Linked DNA regions of Homo sapiens: region 2 is linked to region 1. Evidence: fine-mapped expression QTL. Tissue or cell type: prefrontal cortex. Region 1 holds a variant in brackets; the other region holds the start of a gene. All regions are shown on one strand. Distances are from middle to middle. Region 1 overlaps LINC01389 (long intergenic non-protein coding RNA 1389). Region 2 holds the start of FOXE3 (forkhead box E3).

What was found. PIP is the estimated chance that this variant, and not a neighbour inherited with it, causes the effect. A credible set is the group of variants that fine-mapping cannot tell apart.
Region 2: it holds the start of FOXE3, and the variant in region 1 is the best candidate, but not a certain one, in a credible set for the expression of FOXE3 in prefrontal cortex (GTEx, PIP 0.54).

What each region holds. Positions count from the first base shown.
Region 1 is chr1:47,389,123-47,393,506 of GRCh38, reverse strand. The region is part of intron 3 of LINC01389 (long intergenic non-protein coding RNA 1389); the gene reads left to right. Among named protein-coding and RNA genes, the nearest start is that of FOXE3, 25 kb to the left of the region's middle. The variant C/T (reference allele first, on the strand shown) is at 2,568.
Region 2 is chr1:47,414,367-47,418,750 of GRCh38, reverse strand. It overlaps FOXE3 (forkhead box E3), which reads right to left and starts at 2,466. Exons shown (of 1, transcript NM_012186.3): 1 at 699-2,466. The coding sequence starts at 2,435. The coding sequence ends at 1,476. All of the region lies in intron 1 of LINC01389 (long intergenic non-protein coding RNA 1389), which reads left to right.

The DNA of each region.
Region 1 (4,384 bases):
TATAGAGCAATTAAAGCCCCTCAGGAGAGCTGGCCTCATACCTTGTCTACACAGTCACAGTACAGGATTCCTAACATGTCAGATTGCCACTGCCTTCCTCCTCTGTAACTAAAGACCCTGTACTCGACAGATCAGCTGGCCCTACCCAGAATGATAAACTAGCTCATCTGGTCTTGTGGCTTCTGCCCAGAAACTGACTCATGGCAAGAGGACAGCTTCGACTCCCTAGATTTTATATCCAACCGGATCAATCAGCACTCCCCACTTTCCGACCACCTGCCCATCATTTTATCCTTAAAAACCGCAGTCCCCAAGTTTTGGGGGAGACTGGTTTGAGTAATAATAAAACTCTGGTCTCCTGTTAAAAAAAAAAAAGGAAGGAAGGAGAGAGAGAAAGAAAGAAAAGAAGAAAAAGAAAGAAAGAAAGGAGAAAGAAGCTATGTATATATGTATAGAATATGCTTATTTTATGCATTGAGTACCTAGGGGAAAAATATACAGGAAACCTGGCATTGCTTTTTTGAGGGGGGCTTGTGGACAGAGATAATGGGGGTTGGATGAAGACATAATTTTCACTGTTTGAAATCTTTACCATTTATTCTGCCTACATTAAGAAAAAAAAGGCAAGAGAAGCATAATAAATATATAGAGGCAAGTCTTAGAAGAAACGGCTGAGTCTGAAGTCTTTTACGTCATAGAAGGTGTCAGGGAGATGGAGGCTGTTGCTTTTTAACCACGATATGCATTACTTTGATGAGACTATTTTAAAAATTGTTTTTATTGTGCTAAAATAAACGTAACACAAAATTCACCATTTAACTTTTTTTTTTCCGAGACGAAGTCTTGCTCTGTTGCCCAGGCTGGAGTGCAATGGCACCATTTCAGCTCCCTACAATCTCACCCTCCCAGGTTCAAGTGATCCTCCTGCCTCACCCTCCCAAGTAGCTGGGATTACAAGCATGTGCCACCACACCTGGATAATTTTTGTATTTTTAGTAGAGACGGGGTTTCACCATGTTGACCAGGTTGGTCTTGAACTCCTGACACCAAGTGATCCACCCACCTTGGCCTCCCAAAGTGTTGGTATTACAGGCGTGAGCCACCACACCCAGCCCATTTAACCATTTTTAATTGTACAATTCAATGGCATTAAGTACCTTCATGTTGTTATGCAAGCGTTACCACCATTCATCTCCAGAACCTTTTTCATCTTCCCAAACTGAAACTCCAGACCCATTAAACAATACTCCCATTCCCCAATCCTCCCAGCCCCTGGCAACCACCATTCTGCTTTCTGTCTCTATGAATCTGATTACTCATATATTTGGAATCATACAGTATTTGTATTTTTGTGACTGGCTTAGCTTATTTTATGTAGCATAATGTCTTCAAGGTTCATCTGTGTTGTAGCATGTGTCAGAATCAGCCTTTTTGTGGACGAGTCATATTCAGATGAAACTATTTTTTAAATAGAGGAATAGGAGGAGGAGGAAAAAAGGAGGATGTAGGTAGATAATAAGAGATGGCCTAGGTCAGGCAAATGATGTGCTGTTTGCCCGGCATATTAGTTTTCTATTGCTGCATAACAAATTACCACAAAGAGCAGCTTAAAGCAATCCCGTTTATTACCTCACAGTCCTCTGGTTCATATATCTGGGCAGTGCAACTGACTGGGATCTCTGCTCACAGTATTACAACGTCTGAATCAAGATGTCAGTGGGGGCTGGGCGCAGTGGCTCACATCTGTAATCCCAGGACTTTGGGAGGCCGAGGCTGGCGGATCACTTGAGGTCAGGAGTTCAAGACCAGCCTGGCCAACATGGTGAAACCCTGTCTCTACTAAAAGTACAAAAATGAGGCAAGCATGGTGGCGTGCACCTGTAATCCCAGCTACTCGGGAGGCTGAGGCAGGAGAATCGCCTGAACCCGGGAGGGGGAGGTTGCAGTGAGCCGAGATCGTGCCAGTGCACTCCAGCCTGGGTGACAGAGCGAGACTCCGTCTAAAAAAAAAAAAAAAAGATGTCAGCAGGGCTGGGCTGTCATCTAGAAGTTCTTTCAGCCTCATTCACACTGTTGGCAGAATGTTCCTTCCAGCTGTGGAACCGAGGTCCTCATTTCCTTGCTGTCGGCCAGGGGTGAGGGGAGCTCCTAGAAGCCATTCTCCCTTCCTTGCACATGCCCCCACTACCTTCAAAGCCAGTAACGGCAGGTCAAGTACTTCTCATGCCTTGATTCTCACTTCCTTCTCTCTTACCAGCCAGAGAAAACTCACTTTTAATGAACCCATGGGATTTGATTGGGCCCACCCAGTTAATCTACCTTTTGCCACATAGCATAACATAACCTTACAGGTTCAACACACACTCAAAGGGGAGGGCACTGTACAAGGGTGAGGGTCACCGGGGACATCATAGAACTCTGCCTGCCCCAATGACCTTCACCCTTGGATAATTAGCTCTTCTGTGGAATGTGTTACATTACATGGCAAGAATTTTGCAGAAGCAATTAAGGTTACTAACCAGTTGACTTAAGATAGGGAGATTAACCAGGTAGGCCTAAGATAATCA[C/T]GTGAGCCCTTTAAAAGCAGAATTTTGTCCAGCTGGTGACAGAAAAGAAGTCAGTAGTTCAAAGCATGAGGAGGGCTCTATCTTGAAAGTGGAGAGTGCACGTGGAAGGGACCCTAGAGCAGCCTCTAGTACCAAGGCCACCCCATGGCCAGCAGTGACCATGGTAATGAGGACTTGCTAGGAAATGGATTCTGCCAACAATGTGAATGAGCTTGGAAGTGATTCTTTCCCAGGGCCTCTGAATGAGAGCCAGGCCCAGCTGAAGCCTTGATTTCAGACTTGTGATACTGTGGGCAGAAAACCCAGTCAAGCCTGCACAGACTTCTGACCTACAGAACTGTGAGGTAATAAAATGGATGGTGGTTTTTTTTGTTTGTTTGTTTGTTTTGAGACAGTCTTGCTCTGTCGCCCAGGCTGGAGTGCAGTGCCACGACCTCGGCTCACTGCAACCTCCACCTCCTTGGTTCAAGCGATTCTCCTCCCTCAGCCTCCCAAGTAGCTGGGACTACAGACACGTGCCACCGTGCCCAGCTAATTTTTTTGTATTTTTAGCAGAGACGGGATTTCACCATGTTAGCCAGGATGGTCTCACTCTCCTGACCTTGTGATTCACCTGCCTCAGCCTCCCAACGTGCTGGGATAACAGGCGTGAGCCACCGCACCCAGGGATGGATGTTGTTTTAAGTCACTAAGTTAATGGTGATTTATTATGTAGCAAAAGAAAATTAATACACCTGGCTGTCCCCCTACCCATCTGCTCCCAAAACTCTTATTTTGTTTATGTTCCAAGAGGTGTTTTAGACTAGACTGCAGACAGGCAGACCTGGATTCGAGCTTGCCCTCTATAAGGATTTGCAGTCATGAGCACAGTAAACATTCACTAAACAGCAGCTGTAATGATAGTTTTTATACTCATACTCCCTCTGTAATTGATCCCAATTCCCTGCCCCACTTCTCTGGAAAGTTTGCACACCCTCCCCTGCACTTTGCACTTATTCTCCTACTGCATTATCAGACGTTGCTTCAGCCCCTGTCATGATGAAAGAGCTCTGAGAATGTGGAAGAACACAGTGGAACTTTCTGGAAGTCTGAAGTATCCAGTGAAGAGGGCTGCTCAGGGAGGGGTGAGTTATCTGTTGCTAGGGTAGCTACCTGTCAGGGATGCTGGAAGGGGTTGACTTCATGACATCTTGAGTCTGCCTCTAGCTTGTGTTTTCAAGCTGGCATTTTGTGGGGGGGGCGGCGTGGTGGGGGGAATTTTTTTTTTTTTTTCAGATAGTCTCTCTCTGTTGCCCAGGCTGGAGTGCAGTGGTGCGATCTCAGCTCACTGCAACCTCCACCTCCCAGGTTCAAGAGATTCTCCTTCCTCAGCCTCCCAAGTAACTGGGATTACAGGCGTGAGCCACTGCACCCAGCCTGGCACTTGTTTTATTGAAATATATATACACACACACACACACACATAAGCCAGGAGGCAGGTGCTAGAAGGTGAGAGACCTCTCCAGCTGGGGTTAATGGGGAAGGCAGAGTCAGGTATTAGAGTGAGGCATTAATTCATTCACTGAATTACTTGAACATGTATTCTTGACTCTGGCAGTCTTGCACTGGGAGATTCTGACATAGACTGAAAAATAGGTGAGATTTTGACAGCTTCTCCTGTGGAAAAAGTTCCAGGTAGAAGTCACATCATGATCAAGACCTGACAGATCCAGTTCTCCATGGAGCAGCCACAGGACAAGCAGGGAGTGCTGAAGCATGCGTTCTGCTAGGAGGGAGGAGGGATGGGACTTGTGGTTGTTTTGGTGGTGTGGGACAGG
Region 2 (4,384 bases), 25 kb before region 1:
AGGCCAGGCTGATCCCAAACTCCTGGCCTCAACCGATCCTCCTGCCTTGGCCTCCCAAAATGCTGGGACTACAGGCATGAGCCAGCACGTCCTGCCAGATTCTGCATTTCTAACAAGCTCCCAGGTGATGTTGTAGGTCTGTGGACCACACTTTGAGTGCAAGGCTGTAGAGCACTTATCTTATTTCTCTGAGCGTTGATGGTTGGATTAATGACTCTTCCCACTGGCCCACAACCTCCATGAGGCAGGGATTTTGCCCATTCATTCAGTAATATTTCCCCAGTGTCTAGCACAGGCTCAGCACATTAACTAACTGGAGGAGTGAATCAACGGCCAGTGCTCCTTTATCCATGGGAGCTGGGAATAATCCCAGAGAGCAGACAACCTGCTGCTCAGATACATTCACACAAGTGTGTACACACACATGCCCAGCCCATCTCGTCTCTACCAGGCTGAGATGCAGGAGATGGCATTTGACTAGGCCTACTATGTGCACAGCTATGGCTGAATCACTTCCTTTTTAAAACAAAATTGTGTTAGCCACTAATCCTGCTGGAGAATCACTTCCTAATCCCATTTCATGAACTTCTGATTGATGTCTCACAAGGAGGTTCACCCCATGTGGCAACCCAAGATCTAGAATAAAGCTCACCCGTCTCCCCAGACCACTCCCCCAAGTCACCAGCCAGCACACCAAGTCCAGAAAAAAGTTTCTTTCTTTTTAATTAAACCAGCTTTAATTAAAAATAATAATAACCCAATAAGTCCTAAGTTTTCCAGGGGATGGGGCAGACCTAAAGGCCCACCAACTCCCCTTTCAGTCAGGAGCCCTGGTGCTGCCTGTCTGAAATCTCCAAGAAGTGTCCTCAGGGCGTGAAGAAGGCAGCCAGGTGTGTCTACGTGAAAGGGGGGCTCTCTCCCAGGAAGAAGCTGAGGGCAGACAGGTAAGTGGAGGTGGGGGGCAAACTTGTGGGAAAATGAAGGGACGCTAGCAAGTAAGTCATGAACCCAGGAGTCTGACCCAGGAGTGTCGGAAAAACATGAGAGAAGGTTGATGAAGTACAGTCGGTGGAGGAGGCGGCTTGGGATCACAGATCTGGCTTCCAAAGGCTTGGAACTCACCAGGAAACCTGGGGTATGGACTCACTGGAGGCGAGTCAGCTCCGGGGCAAGGGACCCACAGACAGCGCTGGGGTGGGGGGCGCCGCAAAGCTGGGGGCGCTCACAAGTGGAGGGAGAAGAAATGAGAGGCTGGCAGGTCAAAGGGGACGCTTCTGTCCAGTGGCGAGATGGTGGGAGCCTCCCCAGGGATGGGGGACGGAGAAGGATGTAGCAGGAGTTTGAGTCCAGGAGGCCACGACGAGAGGCGCAGGGTGTGCTCCAAGCCAGGGTGGGGGGTAGAGATGGGGCGCTCGAGGGCGGCGCCGCAGGTCCGGGGCACAGGTCGCACAGGTGCCTGCCCGCGCGGCGCAGGCTCACAGGTAGCGCTCCAGCCCCGACGCGAAGCCCGGCTGCCTCAGGTAGGCCTCCCCAGGGCTGAGCGGGCCGAGAGCGGCTGCCGGCCCGGCCAAGGCCAGGAGGGGCTCAGCGGGCAGCGGGCCGGGGCCGGGGCGCGTCGCGGGCAGTACCAGGCGGTCGGGGACCTGCGAGTAGAGTGGCGGGGAGGCGGCGGCAGCGCAGGGCGGGAAGGCTGCGGCTGCGGCGTCGGGCGCGGCGCAGCAGGGCGGCTCGGGGGCGCCCAGCCCCGCTAGCTCCGGCTGCAGGTTCACCAGGCTGTCGACGCTGAACAGACGCGCGGGCGGCGAGGGGCCCGGTCCGGCAGAAGGCGGCGGCACCAGCAGCGCGGGGCCGGGCGCGGGCGCGTAGGGCGCGTAGGGGAAGGGGAGCGGCGGCCCTGGCGCCGCGGCCGCGTGCGCGGGCAGCTCGGCGCGCTTGAAGCGCTTGCGGCGCCGCAGGAAGCTGCCGTTGTCGAACATGTCTGCGGCCGCGGGGTCCAGCGTCCAGTAGTTGCCCTTGCCCGGGTTGCCCGGCTCGCGGGGCACCTTGACGAAGCAGTCGTTGAGCGTGAGATTGTGGCGGATGCTGTTCTGCCACTTGCGCGGGCTGTCGCGGTAGAAGGCAAAGCGTTCGGTGATGAAGCGGTAGATGGCGGCCAGCGTGAGGCGGCGGCCCGGGGCGTGCGCCAGAGCCATGGCGATGAGCGCGATGTACGAGTAGGGCGGCTTCCCGCGCTGCAGGGGCCGCCGCCGCCGCCGCCCCGGGCCGGGCGCGGGCGTGGGGGCCGCCTCTCCGCGGCCAGCCGCCGCCTCCTCTGGCTCCCGCCCTGGCTCGGCTCCTGCGAGCGGCGACGGCGGCGGCCCCGACGGCGCGACCGCTGGCAGGGCAGGGAAGCCAGAGAACGCGGCGGGCGGATCCATGTCGCTGCGCCCCGCCATCGGCTGCGGCAGCCCCTGCCCGCGCGGCTCCGGGACCGCAGGGGCCGCCGACCCGCTTTATATGGACACGGCCCCCCCCCAACCACCGCCGGGGGAGAGGGCTCAGGCCTTGCCTGCTGGCCAGCGCCTCCCCTCTAATTTCCTCTCCCAGCCCCCTTACTCTGTTCACGGTACCCTCCTCCATTTCGCCCCTCCCTTTCTGCCTTTGGATCAGTTTTTCCCAGACCCAGACTCACCCCTTCCCCATCTCGGTTATATCAGCCCCTGGCCCCATCCCACTGTATTTGGTCAGTCCCCTTCCCTTTCCACCCCTCCTTCTACCCCCTCTCCTTTGGATCATTCCCAATCACAAATCCACCCATTCACTCTCCCAGCCCCCTCCCCATTTTGCTCCTCCCCATTTTGCTCCTCCCAGTAGTCGGTCCCCCCATCCTTCTCCTGGCCTTCCATCCCCAGCTGGAACAGAGATGAAGGCCGCCTTGCCAGCCCTCAGTATCCTGATGGGGAGGTGTCAGGCCCACTCACAGACATTAGGGAACCTGGGCCAAGGTAATGAAGCAGCGGGGCAGGGCAGAGCCAGGCCGGTTTTGTCTCTGGGAGAATGTTTGACTGCTCCAGATCAGGGTCACCATCTTGCCTCTCTGCCACCCCCCTCCCCCATACCCCTGTCATGCCCTCCCTCCAGGCCTTGAGAGCATTCTCTGAAAAAACAGAATTGTGGAAAGTGGTGCGGCCGCTTTAAATGAAGAGCCCCCAGGAAATCCACAACTTGGAGCTGCCTTTCTGGCTGCCTCCTCTCCACACCCCCCTGTTAAAGAAAACAGCTTTTCTTCACATACACACACACACACATACACCCACACACACAGTACAAAATGTAGGCTTCCACAGACTGGGGGTCTGAAAAAGCCGCCTTCTGACCCAGAAACACCACACTCACATCTCACTGGGGATGGGGGGTCTTTGGCAGTGTTTGTTAAAAACTCAGTCTGAGAAGTTCCACCCACAACTGGCATCCAGGGGGATGCAGCACCCAGCCTATTTTGGGAAACTTCTTCTCCCAAGAGACAGGAGACCCATCCCCAGCTCCAAGGGAACTACAGGGTGAAGGAGCCTTGTCTTAAAGTGGGTTGTCCTGGGGACAGGCAGATCAAGGGACTTGGACATGGAGCAGGGCTGGAAGGACAGTGAGCCCACTGAGGTGCCTGAGGTGCTGAGTTTAAGGGGAGCTCAGTCTCAGGGCCTTGCAAGTGCAGTCAGCACTTGAGAGCCAGGGCCTCCTTACATTTGGGGCATCTCACTTGCCCCATCCTAGTCCCCCAGCCATGCTATAGAGTGTCCCTAGGTATAGGTGACCAAAGCTAGTTACAGCAGGCCTGTAAACTCCAAACTCAAAATCCAGTTCAAAATCCAAACTCAAAGCATGGAGCTCAAGGGCCCCTCTCTCAGCTCCAGTCTCAGCTGATGACATCACAGCCACCATTACTGAGCATTTTGTATTTGGTAAACACTTTATGTACATTATTGCACTTAAGTTTGGGCACCCCGTGAAGTGAGTACTGTTATTATTCCTGTTTTGCAAATGAGGAAACTAAGGTTCTGAGAGGTTAAGTGGTTTCCCTGACTTCACACAGCTAGTAGTAAGTGGTAGAGCTGGAATTAAATGTGAAGTTCAAAGCTCTAGCACCCCACTCTTCTAAGAATGCCATCCTTTAAGGCTGAGCTGAGACATTAGAAATAATCAGAGTATTTCCAGCTCCCACAACTTCAGCTGCCAAAGTAGATTCTTAGCTTCTCTCCTCACCTCCTGGTCAGCATATCTAGGTGCCCATTGGGCATAACCACATGGATATTTCAAGGTATCTCAAACCCAAATGTCCTAAATGAAATGCATCTCTTCCTCTACCCGGTACATCCTCCAGCCTTGGCCGGCTCTCCTTGCAGCATTC